Homo sapiens: one gene and its partners. The protein of the gene in region 1 purifies or fractionates together with the protein of each later gene. This does not show direct contact. Each region holds a gene or a part of one and is shown in the gene's direction. Other genes may lie near its edges.

Evidence for each region.
Region 2: the proteins of OASL (region 1) and DDX24 purify together in Homo sapiens (affinity purification with mass spectrometry; 2 studies listed by BioGRID and IntAct, with this or other methods). This does not show direct contact.
Region 3: the proteins of OASL (region 1) and YTHDC2 purify together in Homo sapiens (affinity purification with mass spectrometry; 2 studies listed by BioGRID and IntAct, with this or other methods). This does not show direct contact.
Region 4: the proteins of OASL (region 1) and RBM28 purify together in Homo sapiens (affinity purification with mass spectrometry; 2 studies listed by BioGRID and IntAct, with this or other methods). This does not show direct contact.
Region 5: the proteins of OASL (region 1) and LARP1 purify together in Homo sapiens (affinity purification with mass spectrometry; 2 studies listed by BioGRID and IntAct, with this or other methods). This does not show direct contact.
Region 6: the proteins of OASL (region 1) and KRI1 purify together in Homo sapiens (affinity purification with mass spectrometry; 2 studies listed by BioGRID and IntAct, with this or other methods). This does not show direct contact.
Region 7: the proteins of OASL (region 1) and STAU2 purify together in Homo sapiens (affinity purification with mass spectrometry; 2 studies listed by BioGRID and IntAct, with this or other methods). This does not show direct contact.

The regions. Positions count from the first base shown.
Region 1 is NC_000012.12:121,032,747-121,036,246, reverse strand, and holds part of OASL (2'-5'-oligoadenylate synthase-like protein), read left to right. Parts: intron 1-2,503; coding exon 2,504-2,786; intron 2,787-3,500.
Region 2 is NC_000014.9:94,074,703-94,078,202, reverse strand, and holds part of DDX24 (ATP-dependent RNA helicase DDX24), read left to right. Parts: intron 1-3,500. UniProt on the Homo sapiens protein: ATP-dependent RNA helicase that plays a role in various aspects of RNA metabolism including pre-mRNA splicing and is thereby involved in different biological processes such as cell cycle regulation or innate immunity.
Region 3 is NC_000005.10:113,555,194-113,558,693, forward strand, and holds part of YTHDC2 (3'-5' RNA helicase YTHDC2), read left to right. Parts: intron 1-858; coding exon 859-941; intron 942-3,500. UniProt on the Homo sapiens protein: 3'-5' RNA helicase that plays a key role in the male and female germline by promoting transition from mitotic to meiotic divisions in stem cells.
Region 4 is NC_000007.14:128,333,909-128,337,408, reverse strand, and holds part of RBM28 (RNA-binding protein 28), read left to right. Parts: intron 1-206; coding exon 207-278; intron 279-1,366; coding exon 1,367-1,562; intron 1,563-1,729; coding exon 1,730-1,866; intron 1,867-3,500. UniProt on the Homo sapiens protein: Nucleolar component of the spliceosomal ribonucleoprotein complexes.
Region 5 is NC_000005.10:154,793,377-154,796,876, forward strand, and holds part of LARP1 (la-related protein 1), read left to right. Parts: intron 1-218; coding exon 219-347; intron 348-423; coding exon 424-624; intron 625-723; coding exon 724-886; intron 887-1,798; coding exon 1,799-1,943; intron 1,944-3,500. UniProt on the Homo sapiens protein: RNA-binding protein that regulates the translation of specific target mRNA species downstream of the mTORC1 complex, in function of growth signals and nutrient availability.
Region 6 is NC_000019.10:10,552,585-10,556,010, reverse strand, and holds the end of KRI1 (protein KRI1 homolog), read left to right. Parts: intron 1-661; coding exon 662-726; intron 727-825; coding exon 826-924; intron 925-1,729; coding exon 1,730-2,060; 3' UTR 2,061-2,926; downstream 2,927-3,426. Other genes in the region: cysteine protease ATG4D isoform 1 precursor, read right to left, coding at 2,944-3,126.
Region 7 is NC_000008.11:73,547,841-73,551,340, reverse strand, and holds part of STAU2 (double-stranded RNA-binding protein Staufen homolog 2), read left to right. Parts: exon of another isoform or gene 1-1,740; intron 1,741-3,500. UniProt on the Homo sapiens protein: RNA-binding protein required for the microtubule-dependent transport of neuronal RNA from the cell body to the dendrite.

The DNA.
Region 1 (3,500 bases):
AAGCAAATCAGGAAGCCTGTTCTGGATGTGTTCTTTTCTCTCTGCCTGGATCTTACCAGTGGGAAAGGCAGAAAGGGAAGTCTACGCCAGGCACAGTGGCTCACGCCTGTAATCCCAGCACTTTGGGAGGCCAAGGTGGGAGGATTGCTTGAGCCCAGGAATTCGAGACCAGCCTGGGCAAAATGGTGAGACCCCCGACTCTACAAAAATATATATAAAAAATTAGCTGGGCATGGCGGTGCATGCCTGTAGTTCCAGCTACTCCGGAGGCTGAGGTGGGAGGATTGCTTAAGCCCAGGAGGTCGAGGCTTCAGTGAGTGAAGATCGTGCCATTGCACTCCAGCCTGGGCAACAGAGCAAGACCCTGTCTCAAAAAGAAAGGGAAGTCTAGACTGGCCTTCGGGGGGAATGTGTCCTTCATTCACACACAGGGTGCCATCTCCAACCCTCTCCCAGGGGGTGGAGGTGCTGGGTCTGAATGCCCATGGTCCCTTGGAAGCAGGGCCTGGCTCACAGCCTTGGGTCACGAGGAAGAAAGAGGCGGAAGAACCATCCCCTACTTGAGTTCTGGCTCTTTCTCTGACTCTGCTGCCTTCTGGCTGGGAGACCATGGCAAGCTCCTCACTGCCTCAGTCTTCTCATCTGTACATTGGAGATAATTCTCCTAGTACCCACCTCAATACAGGAAGTGAAGGCGTTTTTTTTTGTTGTTTTGTTTTGTTTAGATGGAGTCTCGCTGTGTCGCCCAGGCTGGAGTGTAGTGGCGAGATCTCAGCTCACCACAACCTCTGCCTCCTGGGTTCAAGCGATTCTCCTGCCTTAGCTTCCCCAGTAGCTCGGATTACAGGTGCACACAACCACACCTGGCTAATTTTTGTATTTTTAGTAGAGATGTGCTTTCACCATGTTGGCCAGGCTGATCTCGAACTCCTGACCTCATGATCCGCCCACCTTGGCCTCCCAAAGTGCTGAGATTACAGGCATGAGCCATCATGCCTGGCTGGGAAGTAAAGATTAAAAGGAATAATATGTATACAGGGCTCTTATGGGTGCCAGACACAGGGCGTGCTCATGTCATCCAGCATCCGTGCTCATGTCACACAGGGCATGTTATATCATCCGGCAACAGCTGGAATCTGATTCTTGTGCAGTGACTCCAACCACCAAGAAAAGTAGCCTTCTGGGGGTCTGATGCCTCCCTAGCAATTCCACCTCCCAACACAGAATGAGAAGGAGAGGAGGCCAGAGAGTTGTGGCGCTTTGCATACCAGAGGCACCAGGGCCTGGAGAGCTCATCTAGAATCTCAAAACATCGAAAAATCCCTTCTCGACCTCCTTCCATTACTAACAGGAAAACTGACCCCCCGGCAGCAGAAGAGATTGTCTAAGTCAGCTGGATAATGAGAAGAAAGAGAAATGTATTGCTGACTTCCTGTGTGCCAGGCACCCCACCAAACGCTTGGCATACATTATTTCATCTGATCCTCCCAGTAGCCCAGTGACTCTTGTTCCAACATTACTTTCATTTTACAGATGAGGGTCTCAGGAGTCAGAATGTTTACCCAGCTAAGAAACAGGGAAGAGTCAAGATCTTTTTCAGGCTGCTCCATTTCACAGCCTATGGCTCTTAAATCCACCAGGCAAACTTGCTCCTTGCTTTATAATGTCATGAAATTATTCAGCCCCACCACCACCCCCAGAATCCTCAAACAACCCTATGGAGTAGATGCTACCATTCCTCTGGAGTAGGCCTTACTCTGTGGGTAAGAAGACTGGGTCTCAGAAGCAATGCAGTGTAGTAGATAAGAAGCTGGGCATTTGGGGAGGCCAAGGGGGCAAATCGCTTGAGTCCAGGAGTTCGAGACCAGCCTGGGCGACATGCCAAAACCCAGTCACTACAAAAAATACAAAAATTAGCCAGGCATGGTGGCGCAGGCCTGTAGTCCTAGCTACTTGGGAGACTGAGGTGGGAGGATTGCTTGAGCCAAGATCATGCCACTGCAGCCCAGCCTGGGCAACGGGAGTGAAACCCTGTGTAAAAAAAAAAAAAGAGTCTGGGCTCTGAGGGCTGCAAACTGCGAGACCTGAGACAAATGACTAATGAGGAGAAAGACAAATGTGTTGCTGACTTCCTGTGTGCCAGGCACCCCACCAAACCCTTGGCATACATTATTTCATCTGATCCTCCCAGTAGCCCAGTGACTCATATTCTGCCATTGCTTTCATTTTAGAGATGAAGGTCTTAGGAGTCAGAACATTTACCTAGCTAAGAAACAGGGAAGTGTCAAGATCTTTTTCAGGCTGCCCCATTTCTCCATCCCATGTCTCGAGATCCTCCAGACATCTCAGTTTTCTCACCTGTAAAGTGTGGGTATTAGTACTACCCACAACCCATCCCTCAGCGGGTGGTGAGCATTCAGTGAGACAGTGCATGTGAAGTGCCGCAGGGGTTGCCTGGCTCATGGCAGTGGGCCTCAGGGTGACGGGGCTCTGTGTTCTGCAGGTGGGCTCCTTCGGGAATGGCACGGTTCTCAGGAGCACCAGAGAGGTGGAGCTGGTGGCGTTTCTGAGCTGTTTCCACAGCTTCCAGGAGGCAGCCAAGCATCACAAAGATGTTCTGAGGCTGATATGGAAAACCATGTGGCAAAGCCAGGACCTGCTGGACCTCGGGCTCGAGGACCTGAGGATGGAGCAGAGAGTCCCCGATGCTCTCGTCTTCACCATCCAGACCAGGGGGACTGCGGAGCCCATCACGGTCACCATTGTGCCTGCCTACAGAGCCCTGGGTAAGGGGAGGGGAAGCTCACCCGACTCACACACTTGCCCACCCCAGGAGACTTCCCAGTGTCTCACCTTTACTCATGGCCACGTGCACACACCCACATTTATTCATTTCATCTGTGTCCTATGCTTGGGGCTGGGTTATTGCAGTGCACAGGATTAACTCAACTCTGGCTATCATATTGCTCAACTTGGAATACAGAAATTGACCAAAGAATTGCAGAGATAAATACATGATTGCAGCCTGGGCGCGGTGGCTCACGCCTGTAATCCCAGCACTTTGGGAGGCCAAGGCAGGTGGATCATGAGGTCAGGAGTTGAAGACCAGCCTGGCCAAGATGGTGAAATACCATCTCTACTAAAAATACAAAAAATTAGCTGGGTGTGGTGGTGGGCGCCTGTAATCCCAGCTACTCAGGAGGGTGAGGCAGAGAATCACTTGAACCCAGGAGGCGGAGGTTGCAGTGAGTCAAGATCGCGCCATTGCACTCCAGCCTGGGCAACAGAGCAAGACTCCGTCTCAAAAAAACAAAAAACAAAAAAACAAACAAAAAAACATGATTGCAAATGGTGTAAATGCTCAGAGAAAAAGAATGGGGTGGCCTGGGTAACCACAGAAAGGGTGCTCAGGAAGTGACTTTCTGGGGAAACAACATTCAGGAGGCTCTGACACCCAGTGAGGGGAAGGAGCTAAAAGTGGGAGTGGGGGTCTGTCACTG
Region 2 (3,500 bases), on another chromosome or scaffold:
CTTACATATAACCTATATAGGCACATCCTCCTGTATATTTTAAATCATCTCTCGATTACTTATAATATCTCATACAACATAGGTCTTATGTAAATTGTTACACCGTATTGTTTAGGGAATAATGACAAGAAAAGTCTGTACAGTGTTTAGTACAGATACAGTTTTTTTTTTTTTACCCCCCCGAATATTGTCGATCCACAGATGCAGAACCCACGGTTACAGAAGGGTGACTGTATAATGTGAAACACATAAGTAATTTAAAATTTACTAGGAGTCACATTTTTTAAAAGTTAAAAACTAGTGAGATATTTTATGTTCTTTTTTTTTTTTTTACTAAATTTTCAAAATCTGGTGTGTTTTAAACTTGCAGCACATGTCATTTTAGAGTAACTACATTTTAAGTGTTCAGTAGACACGTGCTTTGGGTTTCTGGAACAGTGGTCAGGAAACTCAGGATGATGTTCTGTGGCAGTCATATAGATGGAAGAGTGAGGAACTACAGGAAAGGGGAATGGAGATAATAACTTAGAACATTTACTGAGCATTTAAGATGTGTCATGCACTGTGTTAAGTGCTTTATGTTGATGAAATCGGTTGTCACAACCACCCTGGGGTAAGTACCATTATTCCCATGTTACAGATGAGAAAACTCAGCCTCACAGAGCATAGACAGCTTCCCTAAAATTACACAACTGAAATGGTAGTGTATGGATTCCAGGCTAGTTCTGTGTGTTGTTAAGCATTCTGCTACACTGCTTTGGTATGTGCAGCAGAGTCCTGGAAGTAAGTCCGTGGAAGGCAGAAACAAGGTTTATATGAGCCGTTGTGGCCAGAGATTGACATTTGGATGTATACCACAGTTCCTGTCAGGTTGTGAATCTACAAGTCCAGAATTCAAAACGACTTGGATAAGTCATCCATCTGGGGCTGTGAACAGACCACTGCCCATGCAATAATAAATAGACCCTTAATGTGGGGATTAGGGGCATTGGTCCCCTGTGCAGTCGAAAATCCATGTATAATTTTGAACTCCCCCCAAACTTAAACGCTAATAGCCTATTATTGGCTGGATGCCTTACAGATAACATAAGCAGTCTATTAGCACATATTTTGTATTATATACTTTATTCTTACAGTAACATAAGCTAGAGAAAAAATGTTATTAAGAAAATTGTAAGGAACAGAAAATATATTTACTATTCATTAAATGGAAGTGGATCATCATAAATGTGTTCATCTTCATCTTGACTTTCAGTAGGCTGAGTAGAAAGAGGAGGGGTTGGTCTTGCTGTCTCAGGGTGGCTGAGGTGGAAGAAATTCTGTGTATAAGTGGACCCCTACCTTCAAATTTGTGTTAAAGGGTCAACTGTATATCCATTACCCCCAAAAAGATACCCTGGGTTTTTTTTGTTGTCCCTCCCTCCCTCCCTCAGTTCTTGTTCCTCCTCAGGCAACCACTGATAGGCTTTCTATCACTATAGATTAATTTGCATTTTCTTGCTTTCTTTTTTTTTTTTTTTTTGAGACGGAGTCTCGCTCTGTCACCCAGGCTGGAGTGCAGTGGCCCAATCTCGGCTCACTGCAACCTCCGCCTCCTGGGTTCAAGTGATTCTCCTGCCTCAGCTTCCCGAATAGCTGGGATTACAGGCACTTGCCACCACATCTGGCTAATTTTTGTATTTTTAGCAGAGACGGGGTTTCACTATGTTGGTCAGGCTGGTCGCAAACTCCTGCCCTCATGACCTGCCTGCTTCGGCCTCCCAAAGTGCTGGGATTACAGGTGTGAGCCACTGTCCCCGGCCTAATTTGCGTTTTCTAGAATTTTATATAATGAAATCATATAATATGTACTGGAGGGGGTGGTATCTGAGTCTTTGACTCAGCATAATTTGAGATTACGCCATGTTATTACAATTACTAGCAGTTCATTCCTTTTTAGTGATGAATAGTATTCCAATGTGTGGGTAGAGCAGTTTGTTCATCTATTGATGGACATTTGTGCTTTTTCTTGTTTTTGGCTATTACAAATATAGTTATTGTAAATACTATTGTACCAGTCTTTGTATGGATATGTGCTTTAATTTCTATTGGATAAATACCTAGGTGTGGAATGGCTAGGTCTTGTGGTAAATGTAACTTTTAAAGAGTTTTCCAAAGTGATTATACCATTTTACGTTGTCACTAGGTGGTATGAGTTCAAGTTGGTCCATATTCTTGTCAATAACTAGGTATGCTCAGTCTTTAATTTTATTTTAGACTTTTAAAATTTTACTATTATTTCCTTGTCATTTGAATTTGCATTTCCCTAGTGACTAGCAATGTAGAGCATTTTAGCATATGCTTATTTGTCTGTTTGATTATTTTGCCCATTTTTAAAATAGGGATGTTCTGTTGTAGAGTTTTGGGAGTTCATTGTGTATTCTAGATACATGTCCTTTATCAGATGTGAGATTTGCAAATTTTTCTCCCAGTTTGTGGCTTATCTTTTCGTTCTCTTAACAGTGTTTTTCAAAGAGCAGAAAGTCTTTATTTTGATGAAATCCAAATTAGCCTTGTCTTTTATGAATTTATGCTTTTGGTGCCGTTGGTGTTTTATCTAAGAACCTTTTGCCTAATTCAAGATCACAAAGATTTCTCCTGTGTTTTGTTCTAGAAGTGTTAATAGTCTTAGGTTTTATGTTTTGGTCTCTGATCCTTATTGAGTTAACTTTTATTTAGAGTGAGAAGTATGGATCAAAGTTTGTGGGTTTTTCTGCATATGGCTAATTATTTCAGCACCATTTGTAGAAAAACTATTCTTTCTCCACTGAGTTGACTTTGCATCTTTGTTGAAAGTCTGTGACCATATAGGTGTGGGTCTTTCTCTGGAGTCTTTTTGTTTTCCATTGATCTGTTTGTCTAGTCTTTATGTCAGTTTCTTATTCTCTTGGTTATAATAGCTTTATAATAAGTCTTAAAATCAGGTAGTATGAGTCCTCTAACTTTGTTCTTTTTAAAAGTTATTTTGACTGTTGTAGGCCTTTGCCCTTCCATATGGATTTTAGAATCCGTTATATCAGTTTCTACAAAAAAAGTAAGCTGATATCTGGATTGGGATTCTGTTGATTACAGAGCAAATTGAGGATAGATGACGTCTTAACAATATTTAATTTTCCAGTCTATGAATATGGTATCTCTCCATTTCTTTAGATCTTTAACTTTTCTTAGCAATGTTTTAAAATTTTCAGTATATAGATTTTTCACATCTTATGTTAGATTTATCCTTAAGCATTTTATATTTTTGATTCTATTGTAAATGGTAATTTAAAATTTTTTATTTCCGATTGTTTGTCGCCAATAAGTAGAAATATGATGGATTTTTGTATATTGATCTTGTGTCCTGCAACTTAGTTCCACCAAGTAGTTTTCTGAGGATTCCATGGTATTTTCTGCAAAGATGATCATTATCCAGTCTTGGATGCCTTTTGTTTTTCTTGTTGTATTGCAGTGGCTAACACCTT
Region 3 (3,500 bases), on another chromosome or scaffold:
TAGGTGTTACTTATTTATTAAGTAACTGAAATTTAAAACATGGGTAGTGTCAAAAGTTATTTAACATACAAAATTGACAAATGTAATGTCATATTAAAAACCAAATAAGCTGTTTTCTAAAAATTTTATAAACTATTATGCAAACATTTTTATTTGCTCTATGCAGTTATTTTATGAAAGGGAAAGTATAAGTACCGAGTGACTGAAATACATGTTCTAGTTAGGCTTGTATTTCTTTAAAATATTTCTCTACAATAAATTTTCACTGTAGGTTATTTGAATAAGTATGTGGATAACAATGGTTCTTTTTTACTTTCTTCATTGTAACGTTCGGGAAAGGCTAACTTTGTTAGTAGCTCAGCAGGAAGTAAAGTGGAAGTGGTTAAAAATATTTCTCTTTGGGATAAGATTATTGATTGTTATTCTTACTCCACAAGGTTAGGTCCCTGAAAAGTATTTCAGAAAATGTCTTTCCTTGATCTTCTTATTCTGCACAGTGATGCAAATCTGATAGGAAAGTGACCTCAAGGGAATAGATCCGTTCTCTCCAATCTTGATGTCTTATGAGAACTGGCTGCCATTATCCAGCTGTGGCAGAGAGCAACAAATAGCTCAGCAGAGCACAGAATGGAGAAGTTTTACGCTCTTCTGAGTTTAGTTTTTAAATCCTTTTTTCTTAGTATGTTTGTAACCAGAAAATCAGGGTTTATTAAAAATCAGTACTGCTGTTTTAATTATTTAATCAAGAGAGGACTTTGAATTAAACTTTTGGCATGTTAAAATATGTTGATAACATTCTTGCTATTACCTTTTAAATACCTTTTATATTCTAACATAAAGATGGTTTAAATATTACAGAAATCCTTTGATGCTCTGAATTTTGTTACAATGTTAAAAATGGTATGGATTTCCAAAGCTAGTGCCATACAGCGGAAAGGCAGGTAATGTATATTTAATGTATATTCATTCAATTGCCTGTAAAATGGAAACGTTTTTATATGCATTACACATTTATCATATATTCCATGTTCAATAAAATAGTAGTTTTCATGTTAAAATTTTTATATTATTTTTGCAAAGCAAGCCATTTTGATACTTCCTTAAAAGTTGAATGTAGGTTATGTTAAAATTAAAAACTTTTGCCTAGTTAAATGTACATTCAGATGTAAGAAGCTTAAAAAACAAAACCAAAAATTCTAAACATATGCAATGTAGGACAAAGAGCTAATTTCCTTATTATATAAAGAAGCTCTTTGAAATCAACTAAAGGCCAATAATCCAGTTAAAATGGATAAAGGGCACAAATAGGCAATTTACCAAAATAAAAAATATGCATGTCCTACTAATACATTAACCTCACATATACTACCTAATATGTATCTAAATAAATGCAAATTAATGAGGTATTATTTTTTGAATCTCAGATGGGCATTGATGAAAATGTTTAACAGTATGTACAACATAGAGGAAAAACATGGGCCAATAGTCTTTCATATTTTACTGATGGGAGTATAGATTGGTGTGACTTCTTCAGAGTGCAATTTGAAACTATTTATCCAAATCTACTCTTTGACCATAGATTCCACTTGTCATAATTTATCCTGAGTATGCTTGCACACGTGTGCAAAGATGTATGTTTAAGACTGTTCTTTGAAGCATTGTTTATAATAATGTAAAGTCTGGGAACAGTGTGATGTCCATCAATACTGAAGTGATTAAATAAATTATAGCCACACAGTGGCTTTCTGGGTAGCTGTTAAAAGGAAAAATGTAGATCTGTGTGTTCTTATATGGAATGAGTTTTCAGGATGCATTGTTAATTGAAAGGATACAGAACATGCATCTAGTAGTCTTTTGTGGTAAGAAAAATATATGTGTGTTTGTGTATGTATTTTGACACAAATGCATCGAGAAGTCTGGGAGAAACATTAAAAAACAATGAATGATTGTTAACTCTGAGAAGGAGGATTTGTGGGGTTCTTGGAGTAAGGAGACAATTTTATTTTTTTTGTAATTTGGTTATTTTACTAAGTGTTTGGGTTACTTTTTAATTTTCAAAAGATAACATTAAAAAGTATCATTTTCAGTAAATATTTATCTTGCATTTTATTATAATTAGCAGGAAAACATGAAATGCTGACTTTCAAAGAATGCCTCATATACTGAAGACTCATGTGCATTATTTCTTTACTTTGTAACTTCATAGAATGCCCATGAGGGCTTTGTTGTTGTTATGTCAGTTGTTTTCTTATGACCAATAGTGGCTTGATACATTAAGCTGGATGTCCCTGCTATTAATAGTATATTATTGTGGGTAAGGCTGGGTGTAGTGGCTTATGCTTGTAATCCCAGCACTTTGGGAGCCTGAGGTGGAAGGATCACTTGAGTCTAAGAGTCTGAGACTAGCCTGGGCATCATAGTGAGACCTTGTCTCTACAAAAAATTAAAAAATCAGCTAGGTGTGGTGGCACAGGCCTGTGGGCCTAGCTACTTGGGAGGCTAAGGTGGGAGGATCATCTGATCCTGGGAGGTCGAGGCTGCAGCTGCCGTGAGCTGTGATCATACCACTCTACTCCAGCCGGAGCGACAGAGCCAGACACTGTCTCAAAAAAAATAAAATAACAAATAGTATATTATTGGAGATGAAGGCCAGAACTGCAAAAATTTTCATTGCCATTTTTCAACAAATGTTTATCAAAAGTCTTCCCTGTGCACATGTTACGGATAGTGATAAATAAACCATAGCCTGATAGGTAAAGCTGGAGGTAGGGCAAATGTTGCAGTCCATGTGGGAGTCCAGTAAATTAAGCAATTTTAATACAGTGTTATTTGTGCTACAACTGGATGTTTCCAGAGTTGTTAAGAATGAATCTGAGACAATTGTGAATAAAGGGGGAGGCATTTCTAAAAGGCAGAGGGAAAGTATAACCAGGTATACTTATTTGCCTAAAGGCAAGAGTGAATAGGGAGGATGTTTGGATAGAATTTAGTTTAGAGAATAGTGAAAAATGAGCTGAAAGTTGGGGACAAGTTTTTAAGGACCATTTTGAGTTTTCTCTCTTTTTTAAAAAAATAAACAGTGGGATGACATGAGTATAGTATTCTTTCAGCTCTCTGAAGAATGGATTGGCAGGAACAAAAATGATGGTAGGAGGACCCAGTAGGAGGCTTCTTCATTAATACTTTCCTATAATAAGGGAGAGATGAAAGTAGTCTGGATTGTTTTAGTGGTGGTGGAAATAAAAATAAATAGATAATTAATTCAAGAGATACTAAAGAAAGTAATGTTGGTGATTGATTGTGTATGTAGGGGGTGAGGGGTAAGGAAGAGAGTGGAGTTAAGGATGTCATCCAGGTTTCTGTCTTAAAAAATCGGACAGTAGTGCCATAGTCAGATAGGGAAAATTGGAAGAGTGTTTTCACTGGAGAGAATAATTAATTTTTGGTTATTTTGAGTTTGAGTTGCCTGTAGAAAATCGAAGTGGATTGGGAGGCTGAGG
Region 4 (3,500 bases), on another chromosome or scaffold:
GCAAAATTTCTGTTCATTGATAAAAAGGTTAAGGGTTAAAAGGAGTAGGCAGTGACTAGGAGCTTTATTTTAAGACCAGCATTCCCTGAATTGGCAGTTTCTTTGTCTCCACTGGTTCCATTATTGTCTGTGATGACTAGGGGTCATTTACAGAGGTAGGGTTTTTAAAAGGAGAGCCTTTCTGATGCCACTTTTCTGCTTGACAGGCCGGACAGTGGCTGTGGATTGGGCCGTGGCAAAGGATAAATATAAAGATACACAGTCTGTTTCTGCTATAGGTAAGATGTGGTAGTGTTGGGTGAGTAGGGGCGTTGTATAACCTGGGTGAGAGTATTGAAACAACTCCTGTGTTCATGATAAAAGTGTAAGAAAAAGGCTGGGTGCAGTGGCTCTTGCCTGTAATTCCAGCACTTTGGGTGGATTGCTTGCAGTCAGGAGTTTGAGACCAGCCTGGCCAACATGCAAAACCCCATCTCTACTAAAAATACAAAAATTAGCTGGGCTTGGTGGTGGGCGCCTGTCATCCCACCTGCTTGGGAGGCTGAGGCAGGTTCTTGAACCTGGGAGGCAGAGGTTGCAGTGAGCCGAGATCACCCCACTGCACTCCAGCCTGGGCAACAAAACGAGACTTCGTCTCAAAAAAAAAGTGTAAGAGAACCTGCTTATCAGAGTAAGACTATTGTGGAAGATTAACCAAAAGAATGAGACTGGGCTTTCAGGGAAAACTCTGAATTCCTGCTGGCTCAGAAGTGAGTCCAGGTCTGTTTGTCAATTCATATTGTACCATTTGGTGCTCTGGTCCCAAAACCTAGGCTCTTTTGAGTCTAAGCCCCTTCCTGGGAGTGGCTGTGAGTGAGCCTGAGTTCACTGTCCCCTTTACTTGCTGTTGTTTCCAGGCTGTGCATAATAGGAGTGATGGAACATTAAGAATAGAGAAACTTAAAACTTGAGGTTTATTTAGAAAACAATTGGCTGGTAAGCCACCAGGGTCTCAGAGAATAGAACGCACTGAGATTAAAGTTCATGGCTTGGCTTTGCCCCCTAGTGAGCATTTTGCTGGCTATGATGTACGAATGGTAGACTGCTTGGAGAGGCTCAGTTGCCACTTCTTTCAGTCTGGGCCAGATGAACCTTCAGACTGATGAATGGGACAAACTCTAAAGGAATCTGGGTGTTGAGAGTTTTGTTTATTTCTGTTTTTGCTTTTTCTTTTCTTTATACTTTCTCCTGTTATATGCAGTAAGAAAAATATACGAAATTCTGTAAAACCGATGAAACCAAGAACTTGGAGTATTGGTTACTTTTGTTAAAATAACATTGTTTTGGATATTAAATGAATTCCTCCTTTCTTTACCTCCCTCCATAGGTGAGGAAAAGAGCCATGAATCTAAACATCAGGAATCAGTTAAAAAGAAGGGCAGAGAGGAAGAGGATATGGAAGAGGAAGAAAACGATGATGATGACGATGATGATGATGAAGAAGATGGGGTTTTTGATGATGAAGATGAAGAGGAAGAGAATATAGAATCAAAGGTGACCAAGCCTGTGCAAATTCAGAAGAGGTAAGCAGCTCATCCTGTTCTGAGACAGCAGAGGAAGATTCAAGATTGTCTCCGAGAGGAAAAATTCTCCTTTTTCTGCCTGCATCATTGCAGAATTGACATGTGTAATGAAATTGAATAGGCCCTCTGTCAGCCCACCTCCTTAGTTCTGATCTGTGCCATTGCAGAGCAGTCAAGAGACCAGCCCCTGCAAAAAGCAGTGATCATTCTGAGGAGGACAGTGACCTAGAGGAAAGCGATAGTATTGATGATGGAGAGGAACTGGCTCAGAGTGATACCAGCACTGAGGAGCAAGAGGATAAAGGTTTGTTTGGATTTTCATAAATGTCTTTAGACTTTAAAAAAGTTACTGAAGTTACGGAAATGAGCATCAGTTCTGCTTAGATCTCTTTTTAAATAGGACTCTAAGGTGTTCTATCAAATTTATGTTTAAATGCTGAAAAGGAAACCTTTATACTCCTTTCTTCCAAAGGTTTTTTTGTTGTTTCCTTTTTGTTTGTTTTGTTTTTTAAGTGAGTTTTGGAGTGGTGTTTGAGGGTTAAGATTCTTAGGGAATTGAAAACCTAGCTTAATGCTGAGGTTCTACCTCTCTCTGGATTGTCCAACTTGATAGAATAACCAGGTAAACAGCATCTTATACAGATAATATAGATGAAACAGATGATATAACCATCTCAACATCAAGCTAGATTTTAAACAACTCCTTGGAGTTGAGATGGGGATAAAGAACTGTTTAGTCAGTTTGGACTGACATAACAAAATACCATAAACTGGGTGGCTTAAACAGCAGAAACTTATTTTCTCACAGCTCTAGAGGCTAGAAGTCCCAGGTGCCAGCTGATTCATTTTGGGTGCAGCTCTCTTCCTAGCTTGCAGACTGCTGCCTTCTCGCTATGTGCTTGCATGGCCTTTTCTTTGTGGCTTGACGAGGGGAGAGAGAGAACAAGTAACAGTGAACTCTGGTCTCTCTTTTCTTATAAGCACAGCAATCCTATCAGATTAGGGCCCAACCTTAAGACCTCATTTAGCTAGCCTCAGTTACCTCCCTAAAGTCTCTGTCTCCAAATACAATTATATTTGGGGTTAGGGCTTCAATGTATGAATTTTGGGGGAACACAGTGCGTTCCATAACAAGGACCTCTTTGAACATGTTGTAAAACTTTAGCCAATCCTTATTGCTACCTTTATTGAGAATAAATTCAACTTGTTTATTGAGGAAGGCAGGTCATTACAGAATGAGAAATGGCTAATAACTGGTTCTTTGATTTGTCTGGGTGGAGATTTTTATTTCAGCTGTTTTTATTCTGATTCCATTTCAGTAAGTCTGACATGTTGGTTTGACCATATAAGAAATCTGAGGAAATAAGCTTTTTCTGTGAGGAGAGAATGGTATACACCTTAGAATCAAAGAAGCTTCTACACTGAAGGGACTCTGAGATCCTGTATTCTACAACCCACAGTCAGCTGTCTCATGCCATTCTTTCACCTAAAAAACTTATAGGACAGATAAATGATAATGATAAAAAGTTAAAACACAACACAGAAGAGTGTAATACACAAAGTAGAAGTTTCTCACCAATCCTAACAATTCCCTGAAGTAATCACTGTTGTTTCTTGTGCATCCTTCCAGATATTTTCTTTGTATGTATAAGCTTATATGTCTGTTCTTGAAAACAAACAGTGAGTCTCCCTTATACCCAGATCCTCAGCTTCTTAGGGAACTTCCCCAGAGACAACCAAGGTTATTTGTTTCTTGTGTATCTATAGATATTTTAATACATTTATAAGCAAAATGCACACATATACACACACATATACACATTCAAAATGTAGTGTATTTTATAATTTGTGTGTGATTGTATGTGTATGTTTTTTCCTCAAAGTTTCCTATGTCCTATACAGTATTTCCAGAAAGTTTACACTGTCATAGTAGTATAT
Region 5 (3,500 bases), on another chromosome or scaffold:
TCTTGGGAGTTAACGAGGAGTCTCTAACACACTGACGGCCACTGACCAGCTTATTTTAGAGATGAAAAAGAGGGCTAATGTGTGGGAAAGGGATCTGCCCAAGGTAACCAGATTGTGATTTGGGCCCAAGTCCAGGGCAGAAGAAGAGGAGTTGGGTAGAGCTGGCTAGGAGTGGCCTCTCCCTCAAGCCTTTCTCATGTACCCATGCTGTCTCCCAGGAAACAAACACAAGTGGGTTCCATTACAAATAGACATGAAGCCTGAAGTGCCCAGAGAGAAACTGGCTTCACGCCCCACTCGCCCACCGGAGCCTAGACACATACCTGCCAATCGCGGAGAGATCAAAGGTATGCACTACCCACTATGGAGGGCCTGGACTTGGGAGACACCCTCAGGCCTGACCTGGTACCCCTCTCCCCATAGGGTCTGAGTCTGCCACCTACGTGCCCGTGGCCCCCCCCACCCCAGCCTGGCAACCAGAGATCAAACCGGAGCCTGCCTGGCACGACCAGGATGAGACATCGAGTGTGAAGAGTGATGGGGCTGGTGGGGCGCGGGCTTCCTTCCGTGGCCGTGGACGGGGGCGTGGTCGCGGCCGGGGACGCGGCCGGGGTGGCACTCGAAGTACGTGAGGCCCCTTTGGGCTCCGGGATGTCCAAGGGTGTGCAGCAGGGGTGGTGGGCAGGAATCTCCTCTCCCTCATGGCACCCGTTTCCCCCATAGCCCATTTTGACTACCAGTTTGGCTACCGAAAGTTTGATGGTGTGGAGGGGCCTCGTACGCCCAAGTACATGAACAACATCACCTACTACTTTGACAATGTCAGCAGCACCGAGCTTTACAGTGTGGATCAGGAACTGCTCAAAGACTACATCAAGCGCCAGATGTGAGTGTGCGGAAGCCTTCTTACCCTGGAGAAATGAGTGAGAGGTTAGGGGTTGCTAGAGTGTCATAGCTGGGCAGGCCCTTCTGGTGCTTAGCAGCAGTTTCAGCCTCAGGCTGAAAAGATAGCTTTTCTCATTGTTTATTAAAGAAGTGATACCACATTCTCATTGTTTATTACAGAAGTGGTACAACATTTACCTTAAGAAAGTTAGAAACTATACCATTACAAAAAGGAAGGAAAATATTTAGAATCTACCCCCTTCTGTTCTTCCATTTGTAATGACAACATTGACAGAATACTAACATTTATTGAATCCTTAGTATCGGCCAGGCTCAGTGTTTATTGTTGTAGAGGCATTATCTTAGTCCTGCAGTTCTTATCTGTTGAATTCCTATGAGCTGAGTCTTTTAGCCCCAGTTTATAGACAAGCAAACCGGCCCAGTAATTTGCACAGAATCTCACAGCTAGTAAGTAACAAAGCACAGATTTAAATCCTTTTCTGTCCTATTATAGAACCTTTGTTCTTAACCACTCTGATATATTGTCTCTCAGTCCAGTAAGGAAGTCATACAAGAAAATAAATGGTTGCAATAGAGTGTTTATAAGTGTTTTAGGAGCAGAAGAGAAAGTGACCAACAATATTTGGACTGGAATTTAAAGGAGGATGAGGAGTTTGACAGGCATGTCGAGGGGCTTAGGGCAGAGGGAGTGATTTGACCCAAGCAAGGTAGGGTGTCATGAAGGGATCACATCATTTCTTTTCAGCCCTCAACACTGTTGGTATATAGGATAAGGATGGGGTAGGTCAGAGGCTGTGTGAGATTGCTGGGGTGTGTAGCAGAACAAGGAAGGCATACTCATAAAACTGATGCACCAATCCCTCGGTGATAACTACTTCTTCCCTCCACTTAGTGAATACTACTTCAGCGTGGACAATTTAGAGCGAGACTTCTTCCTGCGAAGGAAAATGGATGCTGATGGTTTCCTACCCATCACCCTTATTGCTTCCTTCCACCGAGTGCAGGCCCTTACCACTGACATTTCACTCATCTTTGCGGTATGTCTTCCTCCCTGGAGCTGGGATGCAGGGGAAAGAAAGGTCCTTAGGGAGCTGGAGTTTGGGCCAAGGCAGAAAGCCCTGGAAGAGTCATCATCTGATGACTTCTGCTGAAGTCTCAAGGCTTGGCTAGTCTCCTCCTCTCCCTCCTTCCTTCCTTTCTCTCCCTCTCTTGCTCATTATGGAAAATGTCAGACACTTAACAAAAGTAGAGTAGTATAATGAGCCCATCATCAGCTTCGGCAGGTATCAGTTTATGGCTAATCTTATTCCATCTGTACCCTCATCTGTTTATTCTCACATACTACATTGAAGAAAATCCTAGAAAACCTAGCATTTTGTTCACAAATATTTCAGTATAGATTTCTAAAAGATAGACTTGTTAAAAGAAAATAGCCACAGTATCATTATCATACCTAAATTAACAGTTTAACATATTAACAGTTCCTTAATATCATCAAATATTTAGTTCAGATTCATCCCAATTGGCGCCATATATATATTTATATATATATTTTATATATATTTATATATATTTTATATACATTTATATATAAAATATACATTTATATATATTTATATATTATATATTTATTATATATTTATATTTATATATTATATATTTATATATTATATATATTTTTATACATATTATATATTTATATATTATATATTTTTATATATATTATATATTTATATATTATATATATTTTTATATATATTATATATTTATATATTATATATTTATATATAGTATATATATTATATATATATTTTATATATTTATATATAGTATATATATTATATATATTTTATATATTTATATATTATATATATATTTTATGTATTTATATATTATATATATATTTTATATATATATATAGTTTGTGAGAATCAGAATCCAAATAATACCTATAGGCTGGGTGCAGTGGCTCACACCTATAATCCCTGCACTTTGGGAGGCCAAGGGGAGGGTCATGTGAGCCCAGGAGTTCAAGATTAGCCTGGGTAACATAGCAGGACCCTGTCTCTACAAAAAACTAACAAGACCTGTGTATTGTCTTATTAAGTCTCCTCTTGCCTCTATTTTTCTTTTTCTTTGCCGTTTATTATTTGAATAGACTAAGTTGTACATCCTGTAGGATTTTCCACAGGGCACAGGGATGTCATTTTAACATGTTCATCTGTACTCCAAGTTTTTTGTAAATTGTGATCTAGAGGCCTGATCAGATTCAGGTTTTGAAGTTTTTTCCCCTCCTTGTCAAGAATACTTTATCATAATGATGTATTTTCTCTCAGGTGGCACATAACATTTCATTTGATTGTCTCTCTTGTGCTATAAGCTGCCAGCAGTGTTCGTTAGGATTGCAAAATGACAATATACTAATTCTGTCAGTCGGTCTTCATTTATTAGGTGGAATACCTCTTCAAGAAGTAACTTTGCCTCATCAACTGTTCAGTTACCAAGAGGTATAGTTTGTTCAGGAAGGGCAGATTAATGTTTGATCTTCCTCCCTTTGTTAGCCAGTTTGCATAATTATGAGTTGATCTCTAATA
Region 6 (3,426 bases), on another chromosome or scaffold:
TTGGACAAATGATTCCCCTATCTGTGCCTCAACTCCCCATCTGTAAAGTGAGACAATAATTGATAGCACCCCAACTTTGGTGACTATGGAAGGAACAGAAATGAGACCAAAGTGTGTGGCACCTGGCAGGCTGTGGGTACCTACTATGCCTGACTGATGACGGCTGAAGGTGCACGACCATTTTCATGGTCAGTAAAAATAGCCGATGTGTACTAAGCTTATACCATCGGCATTCAATCACTTCCTCTTTCTGATGGCCTTCCAGTAGGTTTGGAAACAGGCCTAGAGGCTGGGAATGACAGTTTCATATGTAATTAGGAAGCCTGGTGGTTGGCAGCGACCCCTGCCCGTTCTGAGGCTTTGGGGATGGCCGGGTATGGGTGACAGCTCAAGGGCCCTGAGGCTCAAACTGGAATCAATTCAGCCAACTTCCCAGCCATCTGGCCTAGGGCAAGGATCCGTTCTCTGAGCCTCAGTTACCCCATCTGCTGACCTCTACAAAAATCATTGGCCTCTGTAGAGATCAGCTGTCTCTGGCCATCATGGCAACCCTGCTGGGTGGTAGCGGCATTACCGTTTTGACTAATGACATGACTTAGGCTCAGGGAAGGCCCCGCCTGGGCAATATCACAGCAGGTCCCCACTCTCCCTTCCCACGCAGATCCTCGCTGCTGACGATAAGGAGCTGAACCGGTGGTGCTCCCTAAAGAAGACCTGCATGTACAGGTGATGGGGCGGGGCGCGGCGGGGCCACATGCGCAGGGGGCAGGGCGGGCAGCCTCGGGCACTTCCCAGAGCACCCAACACAGGGGCATCTGTCTGCAGGTCAGAGCAGGAGGAGCTGCGGGACAAGCGGGCGTACAGCCAGAAGGCCCAGAACTCATGGAAAAAGCGGCAGGTCTTCAAGTCACTCTGCCGAGAAGAGTAAGCAGTGCTGGCTGGGGAAGCGTGGGTGGGGAGCCTGTCAGGCCCAGGCTTGAGTCTTGGCTCCGTCAACCTCTTGTTGCATGACTTTGGGAATGCAGCGCCCCCCGCTCTGAGACCTGGGTTCGAATCCTATATGGGCACCAACGTTGTGTGACCTTGGGCAAGTCGCTACCCCTCTCTGGGCCTCTTTCTCATAAGATGGAGATAGAGACGGTTCTGCCTTATCAAGTTGCAGAGGATGAAATGAGTTAATTCTCGTAAAGTGATTAAGATATGGTAAATGCCCCATAGGTCTTAGCTGTTATTAGGATTGCTTTCGCCCAGTCTAGAAGGCAGGGGTGATAGATGCACACAGTTTATTTAGAGCTAAAATGAGGCCAGGTGTGTGCTCCAACCTATAATCCCAGCACTTTGGGAGACTCAAGCGAGAAGATCGCTTGAGCCCAGGAGTTGGAGGCTGCAGTGACCTATGGTAACGCGACTGCACTCCAGCCTGGGCGACACAGCAAGACCTTGTCTCTAAGGAAGAAAAAGGCTAAAATGAGTTAATTGATGTGACTAGCTTAGGGCAGGCCCAGGCACAAATACCAGAATCCTCAGCCTCACAATCTAGTCTTTGGGTTCCGTAGAAAAGCGCTGGCTTTGGCCTGAAACCCAGGTCTGAATCCCAGGCAGGCCCTCGGTCGCTGTGCGGCTGCTTCACTATGCCCCTCCTTTCCCTGTCTGTAAAATGGGGCATGCGTGCTCAAGAATGGGCCTGATCTTGACAGGCCTGGGCTGAGCCCTGACTTTTCTCCCTCAGGGCAGAGACACCTGCGGAAGCCACAGGGAAGCCACAGAGAGATGAAGCCGGCCCACAGAGGCAGCTGCCAGCCCTTGATGGCAGCTTGATGGGGCCGGAGAGTCCCCCAGCACAGGAAGAGGAAGCCCCTGTATCACCCCACAAGAAGCCAGCCCCCCAGAAGCGGAGGAGGGCCAAGAAGGCACGGCTGCTGGGCCCCACTGTGATGCTTGGTGGATGCGAGTTCAGCCGCCAGAGACTGCAGGCCTTTGGCCTCAACCCCAAACGGCTGCACTTCCGCCAGCTGGGCCGGCAGCGGAGGAAACAACAGGGGCCCAAGAACAGCTCCTGAGCACCAGGGAGCAGGCAGGGGCCTCAGGCTCCTCTCCTCAAATCAAGCCCTGGACAGGTCTCGCACCCACAAGTACTATCTGCTGCAGAGATCCTCTCATCTGTGGCCAGGCACGCCTGTAATCCCAGCACTTTGGGAGGCCGAGGTGAAAGGATCACTTGAGCCCAGGAATTGGAGACCAGCGTGGGCAACTTAGCGAGACTCCATCTCTACAAAATGTGGTGACACATGCCTGTAGTCCCAGCTACTCAGGAGGCTGGGGAAGGAAGATCACTTAAGGCCATGAGTTTGAGGCTACAGAGAGCTATGATTGCACCACTGCACTCCAGCCTGGGCAACAAAGCAAGACCCTGTCTCTTGAAAAAAAAAAAAAAATTAAAAAACACGTGTAGCTGTGGGTAAGGAAGTCGTCCCATTTTATGGATGTGGAAACTGAGGCTGACTTAAACTTCCCGTGACTTGGAGCTCTCACCTCGAGACACCTCCCAGACCCCACATCCCCTCAGAACGCTGCGCCCAGCCACACCCACGATCAAGTTACACAGCTTTATTGGCCCCCAGCAGCCACAGTTCCCCCAAGGGGGCTTTGGGACAGGGAGGGCCCGGGCGTCCAGTGCAAACTACAGTACGTGAGTCAGGCCCTGAGGGGGGTGCCCGGGGTCCTCCTTCCCTACCCTGCCAGGAGGGCCCCGCTGGTGGGAGACAGGTGTATGGGCTCTGTGGGCTCTGTCCCTGGCTGAATGGCCCCAGACTGGTTGCAGCTGGGCTTGAGGGGCTGACAACAGGAAGTACCATCATCACTGCCAGAGCTCAAGATCCCACACCCGACATGACATAAATAAAAAAATAAATAGTGTTGTATCTTTCCCCTCATCCCCTCCCTTTATAAAAACACAAAGTCCTCAGAGCTGGGGCGTTTGGCCCTGAGGAGCCGCCCTGTGCGAGGGAGCCGGAGTGTGGGCTGGGCGAGCTGGGAGCAGAGGTCGTCCAGGCTGTGGTCCTGAGCATGGCCCTCGGCCAGGGTGAACATGGGGTACCGCTCTGTGGCTGAGGAGGAGCTGAGGACCTGGCGGGAAGAGGGAGACAGGGTCAGCCACAAACAGTGCCAAGCCATATTCCTTAGCCCAGGTTTATTTAGTAGGTGCTTCTCAGGACCACCTCTCCAGGAGAGAGCAGCCAATCAGCACCTTCCATCCCCTGGCCACAGTGATTGGCTCAGCCATGAGCATGTGACCCAGCTCAGCCAAAGACTGACAGTCCTGGGATTTTTGCTGCAAAACCTGCGTTTCCCTTCCAGTGACCACAGGGTGGGTGCCCAGAATGGCTGGTGGCCATCTCTCGCCCCCATAAGGGTAGAGTCCTGGTC
Region 7 (3,500 bases), on another chromosome or scaffold:
AAACTAGCTTATAGTTTAACTTAACTTGTTGTGTATGTGAATTTAGGGATGGAAACTTTTTTTCCCCTATTTATTCTTTGTTTCCTTCTGGGAAAAAACCCCACAAAAATCAGCACTCCTTTATGGATACATTGGAGCTTTTGAAAGAATTGTAAACTCTAGGAAGGGGAAATATCTGTGTCTTGATTTCTTAGTTGCCTTGAAAATCATGTACTGAACTGTAACCGCTAACTTGACTGGATGAACTAGTTTGCTTGTGTGTAGAGAGTGTATTGCTTCCTCAGATTTCACTGTTTTCATCTCCTTTTCCATCTTAGTCTTTATTCCTTAAGACCAAAAACTGTAATATCCTTTAGAAATGCTCTAGAAGATCTGTATTGTGTAGAATGATCATGTATTTATAAATATTTTACAAGTTTAGATTATAAAATGAAAAAGAAGGTCATGTGTTTTGGGGGGTATTTTGCATGTTCGGATTTTTTTTTCACTTCACCGAACCCTTCTGATTCTTTCAAACTATTGCCAGGTAGTTGTTAGTGTTTCTAATTGGACTCTTAATATGAACTTCAAGAAGCTGTTACCAGTTATCGGCTCTGTCATCTGAAATTTTAACCACTTAATTTAAAGTTACAATTTTAGAATTTGTTTTTGTTGTTTTACCTTAAGAAACACAATAAATCACTGTTTAAAAAAGATCTCAATTTATATAAAGTACTGGAAAAAAGCTAAGTAATTTTTAGTTCTATCTATAATCTCCGTAGGATGAATTAGAAATAAATTGTGATGAAAAGAAATTAACTGCTTATTTATGAATCTAATCATTTAGAAATGTCTGAGAGTAACACTGCATTCTTATAGAAACAAAGCACAAATTGCATTCAAGCTCTGAATTGATTTTTTGCTTGGAGCTGTTGTTACAGTAGCTGTAATTTTGCTACCAGAATGTCTTAATTTTTTAAATTTGTTTTTATTTCTAAGCTCTTGGCAATGACAATAATTATAATTTTAACATATCTTCACTGTAGTCAACATGTAGAGTCTGCTTCCCTCATTATTGCATTGCTAAGGCCTTTTTAAAAAGCTTATGCTTACATAATATACTCTTTTTTATGGACACGTTATATGTTTCCAAATCTGTGTATTGTGATTTTTACATACTAATGAATATAAACAGGTGATTTTAAAATATTACTGTGCTTCTTTGGTTGAATGAGCTGGTATTGATGTAAAATACTCTGTCATTGATGGACCACTACCTGCAGCTAAGCAGTGAGCAGAATCTCCGGGAAATGACTTAGTCTGGCCACATGCATAGCCCATCTTCATAATGTCGCAGCAGAAGGTTCTTTGTGGTTAAAAGTTTTAAAGCCTATTTCTTTATAGGTAACCCTCTCAGGTATATTTACCTGGTAGAAAAACATGTAGATTGTTTCTATTACTTAAATGTTTTAATTGGACTGTAGTTTAGAAATTACAGGACCAGCTTGTTACAGATTATACACTATTCTGTTACTTTTATTTCTGAAACTTAAAAACAATAAATTCTTTTTCTGTGTTTCTAGGTTAGAACTTTTTTATTTTATTGCACACTGAACAGATACTGTTGCTTATTGAATATTGTGTAAACCCTTCTTTGGCTTTCCTTGCCCATTGCAATTTGATTTAAGCCTACTAGAGCCATTGTATGTGACAGCTATATTGTATTACAAAGTAAAAATATATGAGTGTATTGAAAACAAAGTTGTTTTAACTTTTAATTTTGTTTCATCACCCAGTCTTTAATTTGAATTTATAAATTACAAAAAGCTACTTTGATCAACTGAATGTAGGTATCCAAGCTCAAATTCTTTTAAACCTACAAAATAGGTAAAATTATTATACAATTAAAGTTATTAATAAAACTGACTTAAGAGAGCAGAATGTGACCGAACACTTACACATTCTCAGCAGTTCTGTTATTCTTGTTTGGTCTCACCTAAAGTTTTTATCGTATTTTAGAATCGAACCTTTTGGATCTCTGTCAGAAATGAATGTTTATTTCTTTCAAGTTTTATCAAGTATTAATACGTTTTATTTATATTCTTTTAAATGTTTTATTCAGTAGTTCTGTGAACTTCAGACTTTGTTGTTCAGCCTAATCGTATGCTTCTGTAACTTCTACACATTTTATAAGAACTCATTCAAAGTTGTAGTCCTACCATAGTGTTTCAGGGTTCCTTGTTGTGTACACTTTTACTATAATGGCAAAATGTTTCAAAATCATTCAGCTTTTTAAAGAAACTTATTATGCAAAAGACACTCTTGAAATGCTGTGCATTTGAGCTGAAGTGAAAGAATTTGTTTCATGTTGTACTTTGCATTATTTTAAGTTTTCACATCTTTAATATGCTTTTCTATGCTAATTATATTAGAAATCTATAAATATAAGTGGTTTCTTTGTTTAAACTAGTCATTAAAAATTAGGTTGAAAATGAAAGTGGATTATTTTAGCAAATCGTCCCTTCTAGATGGATTTCATTTCAGTTTGCTATTCTGTGCCTCTCCTGTGAGCATCATCCACTGTAACAGTGTTGTTTGTGAAACCTTCCGAGTATAGTGTAACAAACTAGGTTTTTTCCCTCACATAAATAATATAAAGAAACACTTAGTTGGTGTTTTAGTTAAACTATAATTAGTTTATTGTCCAAAATCAGGGAGTGTTTTATGGAGGGGCATTTCATTATTGATCATAATCATGCCATTTCCAGCAAGATGAGATTGTCCACTTAAATTAAAATCTTCCTTTTCAAATATAATTCACGCTGAATACATTTCAACTCATATGCCTCCTTTTGTGGAGTTTAATATGATGATAGCAGGTTTTTATAGCCACAGGCTTCTTTTAAGTATTTATTTTTTAACAATATGACTTAGTATAGGTTATATTGGGATGGGGCTGGTGGAAGTGGGGGGGTGGTGGCTGGTCTCCCTGAGAATCTGAGAATCAACCTTTCACCTATTTATTCTTATCTCTCCTATACCTCATGTTTTCCAATCCATATAGTTATCATCAAGGTGGCTATTTGCAGCAGCTTTTTTTTTTTTTTTAGAATAAGGTATTCATTTTTGTTAGGAGATCAATACAAGTACAATTTTGTAAATTCCTCTTAGGAGAATATGGAGAAAGAAATAATGCATGTACATACACACCCACATTTAGGAATATAGTTGTCTCTTGGTATCTGCAGGAAGGATTGGTTCTAGGACCCCCAAAGATACCAAAGTTCATGGACGCTCAAGTCCCTTATATAAAATGTTGTAGTATTTACATATAACCTACACACATCCTCCCTTATACTTTAAATCATGTCTAGATGCCTTATAATACCTAATATAATGTAAATGCTATATAAATAATGGTTATACCATATTGCTTTTTTGTGGTTTTTTTTCAATTCTTTTTTAATATTTTTGATATTTGGATGCATAGCCCATGGATATGGAGGGCCCAACTGTGTGTT